Linked DNA regions of Homo sapiens: region 2 is linked to region 1. Evidence: fine-mapped QTL for protein levels in blood plasma. Region 1 holds a variant in brackets. A gene starts in the other region. All regions are shown on their reverse strands. Region 1 has its middle 6.6 kb from the start of LINC02513. Region 2 holds the start of COL1A1 (collagen type I alpha 1 chain).

Evidence for each region. PIP is the posterior inclusion probability: the model's chance that the variant is causal. The UK Biobank Pharma Proteomics Project read protein levels with antibody pairs (Olink). The fine-mapping took linkage between variants from a reference panel, not from the people measured, so its PIPs are less certain.
Region 2: COL1A1 starts here. The variant in region 1 is fine-mapped to the plasma level of the COL1A1 protein (UK Biobank, PIP above 0.99).

What each region holds. Positions count from the first base shown.
Region 1 is chr4:38,354,788-38,365,837 of GRCh38, reverse strand. No RefSeq gene overlaps it. Among named protein-coding and RNA genes, the nearest start is that of LINC02513, 6.6 kb to the left of the region's middle. RefSeq lists a silencer at 8,078-8,302. The variant T/C (reference allele first, on the strand shown) is at 6,339.
Region 2 is chr17:50,199,945-50,208,358 of GRCh38, reverse strand. COL1A1 (collagen type I alpha 1 chain) reads left to right here and starts at 6,728. Exons shown (of 51, transcript NM_000088.4): 1 at 6,728-6,948; 2 at 8,412-8,414. The coding sequence starts at 6,846. RefSeq lists an enhancer at 2,134-2,635 and silencers at 7,464-7,513, 8,014-8,063, 8,084-8,133.

The sequences.
Region 1 (11,050 bases):
AGTGGACTTTTGGAAATGGAGTCTCTTGGATTTGTAGCCATCAAAAACAAAAAGGCTTTTCAAACAAAGATGTCATTTTACAGAGGCAGAAAGAGCCAATGCTGCAAAGTGTCTTTAGCCCTGCAAATTCAAGCATGAAATGGATATTCAAGGATAGCTTGCCCACAAATGCAGAAGCTGGGACACAGAAGATGCATAAAATATACAAGATACATCTTGAATGAAATAAAATGTAAGAAGGAATCCAGAGAATGTGCAAGCACCTTCATTTTTAAGAAGAATCACTATAATATCCAGTTTCTACCTCATAAGGCTGTTTCCGTGTTCCAGGCAACAGCTGGTCCCACTTTATTGCTGTGGGTACAAAGAGTTCTAGTAAATCCTGTGTAATAGATGTATTCATATGCTCCATCCTTTTAACAATCTTCTTAATTAGGGTGCTGTCCTTTTAAGCAAAGCATTTATATAGTTATTTTATTGCATTTGAATACAGTGTTAGCTTCAATAGACTTAATATAATTTTATGGGTTTTTAAAAAATTGCTTTACAATGAGGGGAATTTATTTTATCATCATTGTGGAGTTATTCCCATGGACTTTTAAGAGCCTTTGGTACAGAGGTTTATGAATCACTGTAGAGGAGAAAGGATCCTAAAGATGTGGTAGATGGTGGTGGTTCTGCCACTTACCTTACTTCTGAGAACCTCAACTTTCACGTCCATAAAACAGAATCAGAATATTCCTCGCCTGCTTCATGGATAAATTGTGAACATCAAATAAGCTATTATATATGAAAGGGCTTTACAAGGCATTGAGAGTTATGTACATTTCAGGGGCTATTACTACCCCCTTGGAAGGTCCCGTCCTCAGTCCCATGAGGAGATGGTGCTAGTGCATGGGTTTTAGGGTAGGCTTGGACTTTCAGGATGCATGGACAGGGGAGAGCAGAGAGAGCCTGGATTGTTTAAGATGCTGGGGTATACAGAGGAGAGCCTCAGGCATTGTGGGAGTAAGGGCAGAGGGCCAGGAACAACAGAGGACAGATGTGGAGTTAATTAGGTGTTAGCTATGGGTACCTGCTGACATTCTGGTACCTAAGGCTGGGCCTCCTCTTCATTACCAACAACCACCAAGTTACTTTCCAGGCCTCTACCTAGTCAGTGTCACTCAAAACCTCATTCTCTCTTTCATTAGAGTTCAGACAAACGATTCTTCACTTAAGCGACCAAATGCTCTGGAATATCCTCTATGTACCCTAGAGCACTAGGATTCCATTTATTGGGGTCAAATGTCTAATCCCCACTTAAATGTAGATAAAATGGAACGTGGCCAATATCAGGTTTCAGCTACCCATGCACAACACAGACATATCCTCAACAGTATAATTTTCAAATGTGAATGACAAAGATTTATGAAGTAAGCCCTAATGTCTTTCAAATGATACTACATCACCATTATTTTCTTTTCCTTTTTCTTTTTCTCTTTTCTTTATTTTTTTTATTTTTTTATTTTTTTATTTTTTATTTTTTTTTTGAGACAGAGTCTCGCTCTGTCACCCAGGCTGGAGTGTAGTGGTGCAATCTTGACTTACTACAACCTCTGCGTCCTGGGTTCAAGCGATTCTCCTGCCTCAGCATCCCAAGTAGCTGAGACCACAGGTGCCCACCACCACTCCTGGCTAATTTTTTGTATTTTTAGTAGAGATGGGGTTCCAGCATGTTGGCCAGGCGGGTCTCAAACTCCTGGCCTCAGGTGATCTGCCTGCCTCAACCTCCCAAAGTGTTGGGATTACAGGCATAAGCCACCACACCCGGCCTGCATTACTTTTTTTATCGTTGTGCATCACAGAACCAAAGGAGTGTTAGTCACCTTTCAAATCACGTCATGAAATCCATTATGTTGTCCACCATATATTCAATAAGAAAATTCAATTATGTCAAGCCCAGCTGTTTTATCTACTCCTTTTAAAATATATTAATGTTTCAGTTTATTCTCAAGTATATAGGCTGAGAGGCAGTAGTAATAGAGTAAAAAGACCACCGTACTTCAAGTAAGAAAACACAGGTTTTGTAGGGGAGTGAAAAATTTCTCTCTTTCAGTTTCCTTGGCTGGGCTACAAATTAAATGGACATATGACAGATTAACAGAAGGAAAACCATATTTAATTATGTGCATACCCATGGGAGTTCTACAAAATATGTCTCGAAAAAGGGTCAGATGATTGATGCTTATATAGCATCCAGAACCACAGAAAAGAATAGAGGCTTGGGGCTTCTGGGGGGTGGTGGAGACACAAGGAATGAGGTTCCTTGGCTGGGCTACAAATTAAATGGACATATGACAGATTGACAGAAGGAAAACCATAGTTAATTACATACATACACATGGGAGTTCTACAAAATATGAGTTTCAAAGAAGGATCAGATGATTGAAGCTTATATAGTATCCAGAGCTACAGAAAGGAATAGAGGCCTGGGGCTTCTAGTGGGTGGTGGAGACACAAGGAATGGGAAGGTGAGGGGAGGAAATACAAGGTGAACAAAGCTTGTCTTGTTATGCAGATTACGAGACTCTGCACCCCTCAGAAGAACAGGCTATCGTCAGGGCATGGAGTTAATCCGTAGTCTCTTTTCTTGTGATTGAAATTAATCTTACCTGGTTGATAAGATTCCCAGAGAGAGGAAATAACGGTTGCGTTCCTTTTGGAGGATCTGTCTTTAGGCGGATAAGGAGAGCTCAGAGAAGACCTCTGCCTGCACCACTGTTCTCCAAGTGCCCTCCAGTTCGAAGTAATCAGCATACCAAAATGTATTTTGTGGTGGCGTTTCCTGACCTCCTTCAGTTTGAATCTGATTTTAACACGCTGGAGAAATTTGAGCAAGTTACTCTATCCCACTGGGCCTCGGTTTGCCAAACTCTTAAAATGGGGATGATATTGTCTACCTCACAGAGCAAGGATCAAATTTGATAATGTGGATGAAAAAGTTTGGGAACAATTAATGTTAGGGCCTTACTTTATCGATTATGTGTTATGGTCATGGACACATGTCCTAATTTGTTGGTATCTCATTGATACTGTAAACTCTCAACAATATTCTTCTGCAAATACTGATTTACAAACTTCTTAGCTGCAGATCAAGGGGGTTAGAAGCTGACTTTCCCTTCTTGGCATCTCTCTCCTTCTCTCTAGTTTTAATATTCAATTTAATCACGGCCATGCCCTTCTTGACTGACCTCGCAATTAAAGATCAAAGCAGAGTCTCATTGCCAATTTCAAGTCCATCTAACTGCTATCCAGATAAAGAAGCTTTTATTTTTTTTTTCCATCTTTTTTTAGAGGTGGGGTCTCACTCTGTTGCCCTACTGGAGTACAGTGGCTATTCACAGTCTCAATCACAGCACACTACAGCCTCCAACTCCTCAGCTCAAGTGATCCTCCCACCTCAGCCTCTGGAATAGCTGGGATTACAGGTGTTTGCCACTGTGCCAGGCTTAGACACTTTAATATTCTCTAATACAATCCTGAGAATGTACACCACAGGAAGAATAAAAGGAAATGTGGACAGTCTTGGACCTCTGAGTGAATGAAGAGGAGTGTGCAAGGCCTAAGGCAAAATGTCAAGGCCAAATGATGTCCCATGTCATAGTCATATGATTCTGCAGCCTATTTGTTTACATAAGTCCAAAGCTGAATACCAAGATGTTTCTTTTAATCCAGTGCAAGGTGAAGGAAATGCTAACGTGAAAGATAAGTAGAAAACAATGTGAAAACATATTTCCTATCAGATGAAATTGGCTACTGGCTGAGCATCTGTTGAGGCTTGTAGGGGGCCTATATTAGTCTGTTTTCTGTTGCTTATAACAGAATATTTGAAGCTGAGTAATTTATAAGGAAAACGAATTTGTTTCTTACTGTTATGGAGGTTGAGAAGTCTGAGGTTGAGGGGTCATATCTGGTGAGCGCCCTCTTGCTGGGGGGAGATCTCTGAAGAGTCCTGACGTGGCTCAGGGCATAACGTGGCAAGGGGGCTGGGCGTGCTAACATCCTCGCTCAGGCCTCTCTTCTTCTTCTTATAAAGTCGCCAGTTCCCCTCCCATGTTAACCCATGAATCCATTAACCCATTAGTCCATTAATCTATTAATGAATTAATTCATTCACAAGGACAGAACCCTTATGATTCGATCACCTCTTAAAGACTACATTTCTCAACACTGCCACACTGGGGATTGAAATTCAACATGAGTTTTGGAGGAGACAAATATTCTAATCATAGCGGGAACCACTAATTAACACCTTTTTTCCTTGCCTATGTTTTTGTTTTGTTTTGTTTTGTTTTTAGAGACAGAGTCTGTCTGTGTCACCCAGGCTGGATTGCAATGGCAAAATCTCAGCTCACTGCAACCTCTGCCTCCTGGGTTTAAGCGATTCTTATGCCTCAGCCTCCCAAATAGCTGGGACTACAGGTGCACACCACCATGCCCGGCTAATTTTTGTATTTTTAGTGGAGACAGAATTTCACCATGTTGGCCAGGCTGGTCTCGAATTCCTGACCTCAGGTGATCCACCTGCCTCGGCCTCCCAACGTGCCGGGATTACAGGCATGGGCCACTGTGCCCTGCCCTTGCCTATATTTTGAACCAATTGAGAAATAAAACAGGACCCAAACATCACCCTTATTATTGATGATGTTAATATTATGAACATGGCTAATAGGTACAAATAAGTGGCTTCCTAATGCTAATATTTTAGAACATGCCTTATAGGTACAAGCAGGTGGGCTTCCTACTGTAGACACACATCTAGTCATGGCCAGGTCTCCCCAGCAGGCTTCTCCCATGTTTGGGAGCAATGGAGACTTATTCTCTCTGCAGGTGGGCTCACTCCCAGGAGAAACAGAAGAGGAAGAAGCTCAGGAATGCATGCCCAGGTCCTCCTTCAAACCCACCCTGAGGAAGAAAAAAGGTTGGAAAGCAGAGAAAACCCAAGAATATTATGTTAGTAGAAGTCCTTCTGCAGAGATAGAAGCTTCAATTCTGGGAGAGAAGCATTTCTGTACAGCAGAATAGTCTTTCTTTCAGCCTAAAAGTAGATTCCTGTAAGAGCAGTTAACTCTGAAAGTCCACAATATGTAGCAATTGTGTTTCTTACAGATGATAACTTGGATAGAACATCCATATTTTAAGAATATTTGTGTATTGAAAAATATTTGGCTGCCACATCTTTCATCTCCCTTCTTACAATGGTTTCTCCTCTGGGCCATCTACCATGCTAATTATAAGCCCATCTATCAACCCAAGACTGGGAAGACAATAGTTGATGAGCAGTTGGAAATAGAGGGATTGAGAGCAATGGCTGTTTTCCAGATCACAGAGTCAACGCTATGAAACACTTTGCAAGATGGCATGTTGTTTTTTTTCTCCCTCAGCCTGGATTATTTCTTAGTGTTCCTGATTCTGCTGGCAGGAATCCTGTTGAATTCAGGAAAACCATATGAAACCCATCCTGGGTGTTGCCAAAATAAATTGTTAATCATATCAGATGTAGCACCAAAGAGTCTTCCATCATAGTCAATTTTCTGTTTTGCAACTGTTCCCCTTGGCTCCATTCAGGATCTGCCAAGAGAAAAGGAAGCTTCCATTGTGCATGCCACATCTTGTTATCTGCTGGAGGAGAGAGGCCAGTGGGGAAGGCTCACTGGGTCAGGATGAGGGTACCTCTAACGCTAACAAGAGGTGTTTACTACAGCCCAATTTCAATGATCCTTCTGGGCATACTAAGAGCGTGTGATCCTCAACTGTATCCATTAAAGCCTGGGAGCATGACAATCTCACGAAGGTTCAATAGGCACAGAGTGGGGATGGCCTGTAGGATTTGTACCTGAATATTTCTAAATGGCTTCTTTAGATGCAAAAGTTATATAAAATGACTACAATTGCCTCCACTATCTGGTTCAATTAAATGAAACCAACTTACCTGAGCACATAGTTATTTGGACTGTTGTCTAGAGGAGAAGGAAAGAAGCAAATGACAACCAGGGAAGCCGTGATCCAGATTTTTTTTAATGGAATGAAAGCCAATAGGTAAGCAATAACTAAAATCTGTCCTAGAGTAGGTCACATCAACACATTGAGTCTAGTCATAATAGATCCTTGGGAAACACACTGAATTCCTTTGAATTGAATCTGCGCCCCCTCCACATTTACAGTATTCTACAGGTGTTGACATGAACATGCTGGAGGGCTAAGCAGTTCTTGAATGTTAATCGTGGCATAGGTCCTTTATATGTACCAGGGCTAGAAAATGAACTGATATGGTTCAAACAAGAAGGAGATTTTTT[T/C]CAAACCTCAGATATTCAGATGAACACATTCAGCATCCCTCTCTGGCCTCCATTTAACTGAAGTTCATTTGCTTTGCAAGATAAACACAAAGGTTGTTCTGCTGTCATTCTCAAAGCATGCCAGTTCTAGTGGCTCTCATCAAACCTACTTCTGGATGTAAATCTTAATTTCAGTCTTAATAAAGCAAGTTCTAGTCAACAAGCTTCATTTCCCATGACTCATTTAGAGAATGGTTTTTGCGTGCCGATTTGTTTTGATCTATATATCTCATTTTTCTTCTGAATTCAGAAAGCCATCTTACCTGAGCAAGGATCAAGCATCCAAGTCTAGAGCTAAACTGTAATATTAGAACATTTCTGACACCATAAAGTCAACCTAAGTGTATTAGCATACCAAAGGGTTGAAGATGTGACACTTGAAGATGGTTAGCTGTTATGTGAGGAGACATTTATTTATTAAAACATAAAGGAAAAATGAATCCCAGAAAGCAATGTGGATACCACTTTCCTGTATTTTTAACTTGAAACTTCCAAATATGAAGTTTTAATCCACCAGTTTAGGTTCTAGCAATGATGTTTCTGAATATCTGGTGTGTATGTGTGTGTGTGTGTGTGTGTGTGCGCGCACACCCATGCCTGTGTGTGTGGTGGGGGGGAGTAGGTGTACATTTTCTGTGGAGAATTTGAAAACGATAATAAAGCCAATTAAGAGATGGTTACTTTTTATTATCACCACATCATGAACAGTCTTCAACCATGTCAGAGATAAAATGCCTTTCCTCAAAAAACTTGTATTAGTGTAAGTTCTACACAATTATAGCTGTTACCTTTGGATTTAATAATATATAGATAAGCCTCAAATTAGCAAATTTTATTATTTATCCATTTCTCTTCTGGCTATTATTATTCATTTTATTTCACAATTATTCCTGAAATAATGTCATCAATATACTAAGTACATCACTAGGTTCTAGGTAAAAATACAGAGTGTTTCTACTTTGAAAAAGTACAAAAAGTGATCAAGGGGAAATATGACTTAGTTGCAGATGAAGAAATGAATGAATGAATCCTGCCTTTTTATACAAATGTTTGAGGTAGCTTTTAAGCAATGCCCACATAAAATAGCAAAATGCAAACAAAATATCAGATCTACAGGAAATATGTCCGAATAAGGAGGTGGCCTAGGATAGAGGAGAGAAACACACATGTGCATGTTGTAAAGTCTTCTATGGTGGCTGACATGAAGCCTCTATTTTGGCTCTGGGATTCCTAGCAGCCAAAGAAAATATGCAAGCAGAAACATACACACTACAACAGGGTGTGATTGATGTAATACAAAGTGACAGCACTGGCTGGAAGTATGCAGCAAGCAAGTATGTTCCTTGAGGTACTATGATCAGTAAGCTGTGATCACATCAATGGTTAATTACAGGTCAATTAATGAATAGTTACAATGCAATGGGGTAAGTGTTGCCAGTAGCTCATATGGAATGGTCTGCTGTCCATGGGAGTTTGCTAACCTGATAATGGAATGAGAAAAGATGGAGAAAGGCATGCAAACAAAACATATAGACTATGCAGAGGCTCAAATAATTAAAACAGCATGTGAATTTGAAAAGTATAAGAACTTCAGTGTGACTGAAGATGGAGTATACAATTTAGGGTGCAGCAGCTTTTGAAGAACTGCAGGGGTAGACAAACTATGGCCCTCAAGTCAAATCTGGCTCGCTAGTTGTTTTCGTAAATAAAGCTTTATTGAAACACAGCTGTGTCCATTCTTTTACATATTGTTTATGGCGGCTTCCTCATTCTTTTTGGTGGTGGTGGTGGTGTTTTTTTTTTGTTTTTTTGATAGAGAGTCTCACTCTGTCGCCCAGCCTAGAGTGCAGTGGTGCAATCTCTGCTCACTGCAACCTCCGCCTCCCGGGTTCAAGCAATTCTCTTGCCTCAGCTTCCCAAGTAGCTGGGACTACAGGTACATGCCACCACACCCAGCTAATTTTTTGTATTTTTAGTGGAGACAGGGTTTCACCACGTTAGCCAGGCTGGTCTTGAACTCCTGACCTCAGGTGATCCACCCGCCTTGGCCTCCCAAAGTGCTGGGATTACAGGCATGAGCCACCATGCCCGGCCTGCTTCCTCATTCTTTACTACAAAGGTGAGCAGTGGACAGAAACCCTATGGCCAGCCTAAAATATATACTCTGTGATCCTTTACAGAAAAAGTTTACCAACCTCTGGTATAAAACATACCAAGGAGTTTGAATTTTATCCTGTAGATGAAAGGGAAAGAGTGAAGGATTTTTAAAAGTTAGGGAAGTTAGGAAAACCAGAAGGGTGGCCCTGGCAAGTTTACTTCACCAATATTCATCTTAATTCCTTAAAGGTAAAAATGATTTGATGTGTCACCTAACCCATGCACCTTAAGGAAGACAATGTCATGGCTGAGTACATAACAACAGTCTCAAAAAAGGTTAACTGGACACCAAGACTTGAGTTGTGATCAAATGATCTACCAGGCTCATTTGAGATATGCTCTAGGCCACTGGGTAAGGATGTGAGGAGTGAAGAGAGTGTCTGGGATATTTTTATCTGCATAAAAGAATCATTTTGTATAGCTTTTTGTATGTTCAAAAAAAAAAAAAAGAAAAAGAATGGTAATAAAAAAAATTCCTTTCCTATATCCTGTTTCCTTCTAAAAGTAGTATTGTTTTACATTTTACATTTGAATGCATAAATCTATGACTCATTGTGAATTCTTTTTTGTATAAATTATAAAGTTTAGGTCAAGATTCTTTTTGGAGGGCTGTGTGTGTGTAATGGTGGCAGCACCACAACGTTGAAAAATGAAAAATGTTGCTTTTAAAAAAATTAAGACATGACATACTTCTGCTGATTTATTTTCTTGTGGATAGTTTTCTATGCATATGCGTCTGCTCTGCCGCTTTATGAATTGAGATTTTTTCCCCAGATCTTAACTTGCCCATATTATATTTCAGCAAACAGAAAGAATAGTTTTTTGTTGTTTTTTAAAGAATCATTTTGCGTGGCATTCCCATGTTTACGAGGCATATAGATAACGTAGTGGTTAGGAGCACGAGCTCTGGAGTCAGTTTCTTGGTCAAATCCTGTCTTTGACCATTTACCAGCCATGTGCCTTTGGAGACAAGGTTCAGTGTCCTCGTCTGTCAAATAGTAATAATAATAGGACCTGAGCTGGGCACGGTGGCTCATGCCTGTAATCCTAGCACTTTGGGAGGCCAAGGCGGGCGGATTGCCTGAGCTCAGGAGATCGAGAAAGCCTGGGCAACACAGTGAAACCCCGTCTCTACTAAAATACAAAAAATTAGCCAGGCATGGGGTGTGCGCCTGTAGTCCCAGCTACTTGGGAGGCCAAGGCAGGAGAATTGCTTGAACCCAGGAGGCGGAGGTTGCAGTGAGCAGAGATCACACTACTGTACTCCAGCCTGGGCGACAGAACGAGACTCCATCTCCAATAATAATAATAATAATAATAATAACACCTACCCTATCATAAGGTTGTTGTGAAGGCTGATGAGTTATACAGTTCTGTTCACACAGGAAGCACTCAATAAAGCTTCATCGTTCCCATTACTAGAAGCATTTAGGTGGAATTTAACCCTGACTTTAGGATATGACATTACATCATATCACATTACTTTACATTGCATCTCACGACATTTTAATGTAAAACGAGAGATTCTCCTCTGTTCTACTCTCTTGGCAGCTACAGAAATAAGAAACTGGTTATAAAATTCCCTGAGAACAGAGGGGACAGGAATTGATATTTGAAAACAAATGATTAATCTTTTTTGATCCAAGACCCAGCTCCCAGGGTTTTTTTTTTTTAGCTATTGGATTAGTTTCCCAGAGTTGCCATGACAAATTACCACAAACTGTGTGCCTTAAAACAATATAAATTTATTCTCCTGTAGTTCAGGAGGCTAGAATCTGAAGTCGAGGTGTTGGCCAGGCCCTACTCCCTCCAAAGCTGCTCGTTTCAGCTTCTAGTGGCTTCCAGACATCCTTGGTGTTCCTTGGCTTTTAGCTGCATCACTCCAACCCCTGCCTCCATCCTCACATTCCCTTATTCCTTTCTTTGTGTCTTATAGGAACACCAGTAATTGGATTTAGAGCCCACCCTGATGCAGGAAGACTTCGTCTTCTTTGATCCTGTCACTCATGTAGTGAGCATAGTATCTGATAGTTTTCCAACACTCGCACCCTCCCTCTAGTCATCCCCAATGTGTATTGTTTTCATCTTTGTGTCCATGTGTATTCAGTGTTTAGCTCCCATATGTATGTAAGAACATGTGGTATTTGGTTTTCTGCTCCCGTGTTAATTCACTTATGATGTTAGTGTCCAGCTGGGGTATCCGTGTTGCTACAAAGGACATGATTTTGTTCTTTTTCATGGTTGCATAGTATTCCATGGTATATACATACTATTTTCTTTATCCAGTCCATCACTGATGGGCATCTAGGTTGAGTCCACGTCTTTGGTAGTGTGAATGGTGCTGGGGTGAACATGCAAGTGCATATGACGTTTTGGTAGAATGATTTGTTTTCCTTTGGGTGTATACTTAGTAATGGGATTGCTGGGTGGAATGGGAGTTCTGTTTTTAGTTCTTTGAGAAATCTCCCAAATGCTTTCCACAGTGGATGAACTAATTTACATTCCCACCAACAGTG
Region 2 (8,414 bases), not on the chromosome of region 1:
CCTTGCCCAGCCAGAAGCCCGGGATCATCCCTGTTCCTCACCAACCCCACCCCACATCCAATCCAACCCCAGCACCTGTAAATTTTGCTTCCCAAAGGGCTCTCAAGCCCATCCTCTTCTCTCTGTCTCCATTCCCACCTACCGGATCCAAGCCCCTCACCTGGGCAAGTATAGCAGCCTCTCAGCTGCTCCTCCACCTTTGACCACAGCCCTCCTCCCGCAGGTACCTACTCCATGGAGTGCCCATGGCTTTCTTTTACAAATGCAGACCTGATTGTGACCCTCCCCTGCGTCAGGCCCTCTGCTGGGGCCCATAGCTGAAAGGAGGCAAACTACACCTGTGATGGGGCTTCTCTGGCCCGCCCAGCCTTTGCCTGTGGTGCTCCAGCCACACTGGCCTTCCCTGAATTCCTTGGGCATCCAGCACTCGCCATGCCCCCTCCTGCCTTTGCATATGTGGTCCCATCACTATCCACCCTGCCTCCTATCCTTTTCCCATCAGCCTACCCAGGGAAGCCTTCCTAGGGCTCCAGGACTAGAGCAGACCCTCTGCCATGTCTGCCCATTCAAAGCTCTGCATTCTTCTTCTTAGTAACCTTAATGGTTGCACCTCCACGTTTATTCATGTGATTTCATTGCTGTCTGTGTCTTTACCAGACACAAACTCCATCAGGCAGACACAGGGTCTGTGCTGCTCACCATTGAATGCCCAGTACCCAGCAAAGTGCCTGGCACGTGACTATTGTTGCATGAATTTATCAGCAAATGAATGTAGCTCCTTAGCAAAATGGGGTGGGGGTGGCTTTTGGGAAGAAGGCAAGGTCATGTTATCCATACAGGATCCTTTCTGTGTCCGAGCCAGACTGTCCAAAGGGGCCCCTGCCAGGACCCCTGCCCAACACCCCGCCCTGAAACTCCAGAATCTCAAGTTTGCCAGGAGGAAGAACTCGTGGCTGGGGCAGAAGCAGAAGACAGAAGACATCGGTGGCCAAAACTTCCCTGGGGTGGGGGTTGTGGGGGGTGGGTATCAAGGAAGGAGATCAAGATCTGGAAGGTACCTCTGCCCAACAGAGGCTTCTCCTCAGCACCCCCCTTCTTTTATTTAAATTCAGGATTCAAAGGAACCCTGGCATTTATCTCCCAAACACAACACGGCAACCAGACATCTGGCTGTGATGCGAGCCCTGCACCACCCGCCCCCCGGCCACGCCCCCTATGGCTGCTGCCCTTTCTCCCCTGGAGCAGCTCACGAAGGCTGCACGCCCGCCTACAGCATGAGGAGACCCGGCAGAGCGCCATACCCCAGGATGGGCACCAGAGAACCGGGGACTGGGGAAGAGGAGATACCGGAAGAGAATAAGAGAGGAAAAGAGGGAGGGGGAAAAAAGTATGTGGGTGGAGAGGTGGGACAACGGGTCAGAGACCGAGGAAAGAAAAGGAAAGGAAAAAAAAAACTAAGAAAAGGAAGAAAAACGCATGAAGAGAAAAATTTGAAGGGAGAGAGGTTGGGGGTGGGGGAGAGAAAAGGTAAATGAATAGAAGAAAGAAAGGAAGAAAGGAATGGAGAAAAGCAAATGGGATAAAATAGGCACGGAATTGAACCAACCCAGAAAGGTGTAAATATTCAATCAATTCATGGGGCCAACTTTCTCTTTTTTTTTTCTTTTCTCTTTCTTTCTTTCTTTCTTTTTTTTTTTTTGAGAGAGAGAGTTTCGCTTTTTTGCCCAGGCTGGAGTGCAATGGTGTGATCTCGGTTCACTGCAACCCCCGCCTCCTGGGTTCAAGTGATTCTCCTGCCTCAGCCTCCCAAGTAGCTGGTACTACAGGCCCATGCCGCCATGCCGGGCTAATTTTTGTATTTTTAGTAGAGATGGAGTTTCACCATGTTGGCTAGGCTGGGGTCTCAAACTCTCGACCTCAGGTGATCCGACTGCCTCAGCCTCCCAAAATGTTGGGATTACAGGTGTGAGCCACCGCGCCCTGCCAAGCCAACTTTTAAGAAGAACTACACTGCCTCCAGACATCAGGAGCAGGGAGGGATATGACAGAAAAGCTGCCAGCTACCCAGCTGGGAGCTCACTCCAGCAGGAAAGATGGGGCTGACCCCTCACTTCTGACTACCAGAGAGCAGCAGTGAGAACTGGGGTCCCCTAACTCAACAACATCCCCCATCCAGTGCATTATTCTCAGCTGGGGCCTGGCTGGGACCTGGTGGGGTGGCTGGAGAGGGCTTGGGAGCTGGGGCCATGACAGACCTCGTGTCACCTGGGGCCATACCCCCAGCCCTTCTCTCTCCAGCTCCCAAGTTCTCCTCCTAGGACTGGGGTGGGGGTGGTGGAGGCAGCGGTCAGAGAATGGGGTGGGATCCGTCCAGGACTAGAAAACAAAGTTCATCTTCAAGAGCCTGGAATGAGGGCTTGTTCTAGGGGAGAATGAGGGGGAGGCTGGGCCTGGCTATGGACATTTGAGGGCTCGGGTCACCTGGAAAGAAAAGGAAAGGGGGAAGGAGAGCAAAAGAGGCAAATGAGATCCAGAAAAGGAGCTCTGGAGACAGAGGGGGATGGAGAAAGCAGCGAAGAAACTTGGAAGACAGAGGAGGGATGCAGGGGCCTGAAAGGAACGCAGGATCCGGGCTGGGAAGAAAGAGAAAGAGCAGGGGACAGATGCCTCTCTAGACTCCTGCCACAGCCAGACTCCTCCTCCCAGTCGCTGCCCTCTGACCTTGCTTCCTGGCCTCCCACACACTCCTTAGCCCACTCCAGTCCGGCTTCCTTGTCCATCTCTCCACCACAGCAGCTCACGCTGCGGGGATCAGTCACCACCATTCTGCTAAGTCCAGGGAACATTTTACTCCTTACCATACTAGTTCTCTCTGCAGCATATAACTCTCCTTCCTTCTAGTACCATCTCTTTCCTCTGCACTCATGACCCCCCAATCCCTCTCACCCAGCCCTCCTTCTCTGGCCACTCTTGCCCTATCTCCTCCTCCTCCACCCAGCCCTTACACCCTGAGGGTCCCCGAGGCTCAGTGCCAGCCCCTCCACACTCCCTCCCTCCATGCTTTCTCTGAGACAACACCATCCACAACCCCAGCTTCAGTTACCATCATCCTGGGACCCACATTTGTCTCTCCTCTGAACTCCTGACCCAAGTGCCCAAGGGTTTCCTCCGTATTTCTAATTGGATGTCTCACAGGCTTCAAACACTCAGCATGGACAAAACCTACTTCATCATCTTCCCCCTAACCCTGGAAAGGAAGGAAGGAGGGAGGAAGGGAGAGAGGGAAATCCTAGGAGGCTGGAGGACTTGGGTTTGGGGCTAAGGCATAGAAGAGCAGAGCTGTACCTGGAAGCTGAGGAACCTAGCAAAGGGCTCCGACTGTGCAATGCTAAAGCGAGGGAAGAAGAAGGGCCTGCACACACCCGGGGTCTATCCCCAGACTCTGCTCCAGGCTCCCTCAACAGGAACTGTGCAGGGCTCCATGATAGAGACTCATGGAGAGCTTCATCCTGGGGTCTTCACTGCACCCCCACTCTTAGACCCCGCCCTTCTGTCTCCTCAGACCCTCTCCTAGGAACCCCCTCTTTATCATCAGTCTAGGGCTAGAGGTGGGAGCAGAGAAGCGTTCTGGAGAATTGGAGTTGGGGGAAGAGCAACAGAACCTCAACTGGGGGCTGCAGCAGCTGGAAAGGGTGACCCCGATGTGCAGGGCAGGGGTGCATGCCCCCCACCAGGTGCACAACACCTGGGCTACCTCTTCCAGGTGTGTTCTCCTCCTTTGTCCCATACCATGGAGTCCAGATGGGGCACCTGAGGAGCTCTGAGGGTGGGGGCCTTTTCCCTCCTTCTTTGGTGTTGGAGGGGGGCACTTGGGGAAATTTGGAGAAGGAGAGAACTCAAGCTCAGCACTTTCCTCTTTCTGTTTTTCTTCTTAAGGAATTTTTTTTCCCTAACTGCTGATGACTTTACCATTTCTTGGGGGTGTGGGGAGGAGATTTTGGCTTTTGCTCCCCCCCACTTTAAGTGCCGGACAAAGTCTTACATTCCACAAGAAGCCAGAGCTTCAGAGTTTCCTAAAGATGAGGTGGCGTCTCCTCCTCTCACAGGCACAAGCTCCCTCCTCCTCCCACCCCCCATCCCCCCAGTCTGCAGCCCTCAATCCTGGCCAGGAAGGCCCAGCCAGGCTGGGAGGAGACCCCAAGCACATTCTTCCTCTCACTGTCATACTGCAGAAATTAAAGACACATCTTCAGCCTGGGCACCCGCCAAGCGTTTTAAGTCGAAGAGTGGCAGGGGAGGCCTTGAGCCTCAGCTCCATGCCACGTGTAAAGGATGCTTGGAAACTGTCTGCCTCGGCCCCTGGGAGGAAGGCCTGGAACTGGACATTGGGGTGGTGGCTGTCACACGCCAGGCACACAAAACTCCAAAGCCAGGGATCCCCAAATATCCTTCAGAACCCCAGGCCCATGATGTAGCAACCCCCAATTCACACCTTGGAGGTTTCAACTCTTCTTTAAGATGGGCGTGGGAAAGCCTGGATGGGAAACATATGGGGAGGGGCGGGGAGCTGCAGGCAGGAGCCCTTCTTACTACGAAAACCCAAGAAGCAAGGAAGTGGACAGGTCACTAACCCTCATACTACCAAGCCCTGCGGCACCCTGCCCTAGACCACCACTCTAAATGTCTGTTCCCTCCAAAAACAGGACCCCTGTCGCCTATTAGGGAGGGGTTCTCTTGGAACTGACCCACAGTAGGGGGCAGGACTTTGGTGGGTTCAAGAACTGCCATCTCAGCACCTCAGCCCCCTAGTCCTGCCCTGCAGTCGCTGGCACTAGGCGGGGGCAGACCCTGGGCCACAAGTTGCTGCCACATGGTCGGGATAATTGATGAAGGTCCATCCCTCCATTGCTGTCTCCAGCCCTGCCTCTCTGGAAACTCTATATTTTCCCTTTAATTATAGCCCCTGCAGTCTCCCTCTGCTGCCCCACCCGCACCGCTCATCCTGGCTGCCCACGGCCAGCCGGCCAGCCGACGTGGCTCCCTCCCCTTCTGTTCCTTTTTTTTCCCCTTTGCCTTCGTTGCACAAAACCAGCTGGGGGAGGGCGTGGAGAGGGGCGGGGGGAGGCAATGGAATCTTGGATGGTTTGGGGGAGGCGGGACTCCCCGCTTCCACGTTTGCAGCTCTGGAGCACCCGGGGTGGGGAGCTGCACAGGAGGGAGAGAAATGAACAGGGCACTGCAAGGAGACCCCCAGGCCTTCTCTCAGCCCTACAGAGTTTCTCAGGACGAGGTAGATTGGGGTTGAGGCAGAGCCTTGTTGGGGGAATGGGACATGGAGGAAGAAAGGACGTGGAGTTCTAGAGCCATCTTCCTTAGATATAGCCTGCTGTCCTTCGGGTCCCCAGACCCTTTCAGAGTGTACAGATGATTCTCTCTGGTTCCTAAGGCATAGAGCAATGACCGGGATTTTCAAGAAAGAGATGAGGCAGTGGGAAGTAGCCCCTAAAACAAAGTCAATCATCCTCTGCAGCCCATCCCACACCCCCAAAGGAAAGTTTCACCCAGACACCCAAAATATCCCATACATCCCCAACACTGAGTCCAGGTACAACTGGAGAAGGGGCTTTATGCAGCTCCCAGAAAGACACCCCTTTAGCTAAGTGCCCTCCCTCCACCCAGGTTCTCTCTGGTTTGACTGTGCTGGGAAGGAGGGTCTCTAAGCAGCCCCTGGCCACAGCCATGGCAAACAAAACTCTTCTCTAAGTCACCAATGATCACAGGCCTCCCACTAAAAATACTTCCCAACTCTGGGGTGGAAGAGTTTGGGGGATGAATTTTTAGGGGATTGCAAGCCCCAATCCCCACCTCTGTGTCCCTAGAATCCCCCACCCCTACCTTGGCTGCTCCATCACCCAACCACCAAAGCTTTCTTCTGCAGAGGCCACCTAGTCATGTTTCTCACCCTGCACCTCAGCCTCCCCACTCCATCTCTCAATCATGCCTAGGGTTTGGAGGAAGGCATTTGATTCTGTTCTGGAGCACAGCAGAAGAATTGACATCCTCAAAATTAAAACTCCCTTGCCTGCACCCCTCCCTCAGATATCTGATTCTTAATGTCTAGAAAGGAATCTGTAAATTGTTCCCCAAATATTCCTAAGCTCCATCCCCTAGCCACACCAGAAGACACCCCCAAACAGGCACATCTTTTTAATTCCCAGCTTCCTCTGTTTTGGAGAGGTCCTCAGCATGCCTCTTTATGCCCCTCCCTTAGCTCTTGCCAGGATATCAGAGGGTGACTGGGGCACAGCCAGGAGGACCCCCTCCCCAACACCCCCAACCCTTCCACCTTTGGAAGTCTCCCCACCCAGCTCCCCAGTTCCCCAGTTCCACTTCTTCTAGATTGGAGGTCCCAGGAAGAGAGCAGAGGGGCACCCCTACCCACTGGTTAGCCCACGCCATTCTGAGGACCCAGCTGCACCCCTACCACAGCACCTCTGGCCCAGGCTGGGCTGGGGGGCTGGGGAGGCAGAGCTGCGAAGAGGGGAGATGTGGGGTGGACTCCCTTCCCTCCTCCTCCCCCTCTCCATTCCAACTCCCAAATTGGGGGCCGGGCCAGGCAGCTCTGATTGGCTGGGGCACGGGCGGCCGGCTCCCCCTCTCCGAGGGGCAGGGTTCCTCCCTGCTCTCCATCAGGACAGTATAAAAGGGGCCCGGGCCAGTCGTCGGAGCAGACGGGAGTTTCTCCTCGGGGTCGGAGCAGGAGGCACGCGGAGTGTGAGGCCACGCATGAGCGGACGCTAACCCCCTCCCCAGCCACAAAGAGTCTACATGTCTAGGGTCTAGACATGTTCAGCTTTGTGGACCTCCGGCTCCTGCTCCTCTTAGCGGCCACCGCCCTCCTGACGCACGGCCAAGAGGAAGGCCAAGTCGAGGGCCAAGACGAAGACAGTAAGTCCCAAACTTTTGGGAGTGCAAGGATACTCTATATCGCGCCTTGCGCTTGGTCCCGGGGGCCGCGGCTTAAAACGAGACGTGGATGATCCGGAGACTCGGGAATGGAAGGGAGATGATGAGGGCTCTTCCTCGGCGCCCTGAGACAGGAGGGAGCTCACCCTGGGGCGAGGTTGGGGTTGAACGCGCCCCGGGAGCGGGAGGTGAGGGTGGAGCGCGGCGTGAGTTGGTGCAAGAGAGAATCCCGAGCGCGCAACCGGGGAAGTGGGGATCTGGGTGCAGAGTGAGGAAAGCACGTCGAAGATGGGATGGGGGCGCCGAGCGGGGCATTTGAAGCCCAAGATGTAGAAGCAATCAGGAAGGCCGTGGGATGATTCATAAGGAAAGATTGCCCTCTCTGCGGGCTAGAGTGTTGCTGGGGCCGTGGGGGTGCTGGGCAGCCGCGGAGGGGGTGCGGAGCGTGGGCGGGTGGAGGATGAGAAACTTTGGCGCGGACTCGGCGGGGCGGGGTCCTTGCGCCCCCTGCTGACCGATGCTGAGCACTGCGTCTCCCGGTCCAACGCTTACTGGGGCAGGAGCCGGAGCGGGAAGACCCGGGTTATTGCTGGGTGCGGACCCCCACCTCTAGATCTGGAAAGTAAAGCCAGGGATGGGGCAGCCCAAGCCTCTTAAAGAGGTAGTCGGGCCGGTGAGGTCGGCCCCGCCCCGGCCCCATTGCTTAGCGTTGCCCGACACCTAGTGGCCGTCTGGGGAGCCGCTAGCGCGGTGGGAGTGGTTAGCTAACTTCTGGACTATTTGCGGACTTTTTGGTTCTTTGGCTAAAAGTGACCTGGAGGCATTGGCTGGCTTTGGGGGACTGGGGATGGCCCCGAGAGCGGGCTTTTAAGATGTCTAGGTGCTGGAGGTTAGGGTGTCTCCTAATTTTGAGGTACATTTCAAGTCTTGGGGGGGCCTCCCTTCCAATCAGCCGCTCCCATTCTCCTAGCCCCGCCCCCGCCACCCCACCTGCCCAGGGAATGGGGGCGGGATGAGGGCTGGACCTCCCTTCTCTCCTCCCTCGCCCTCCTCCTGTCTCTACCACGCAAGCCACTCCCCACGAGCCTGCCCTCCCGATGGGGCCCCTCCTATTCTCCCCCCGCCCTCCCCCTCTCACCCTGTGGTTTTTATTTCACTTGGCTTCAGCGCCAATGGGCTGAGGTTGGAGTTGGAAGCCACCGCGGACTAAAGCTTTGTTTAAATTCCTGAGAACTGGAAAGAGTTACAGCCTCCCTGGCCAGGCGCCTCGGCGCTGTCACCCGCGCTGATGAGGAGCAGGCGAGCTTTTAAGGATTTGAGGAAAGAAGAACGGGGGGAGGGGCGGGAAGTGAAAAATCCAAGTGTGCCTCTTAGACCCGGGGGAAAGGTGGTTAAGCTGGGGGTTGCAGTCACTACTGACAACGCCCCTCTTCCGCCTGTCCCAGTCC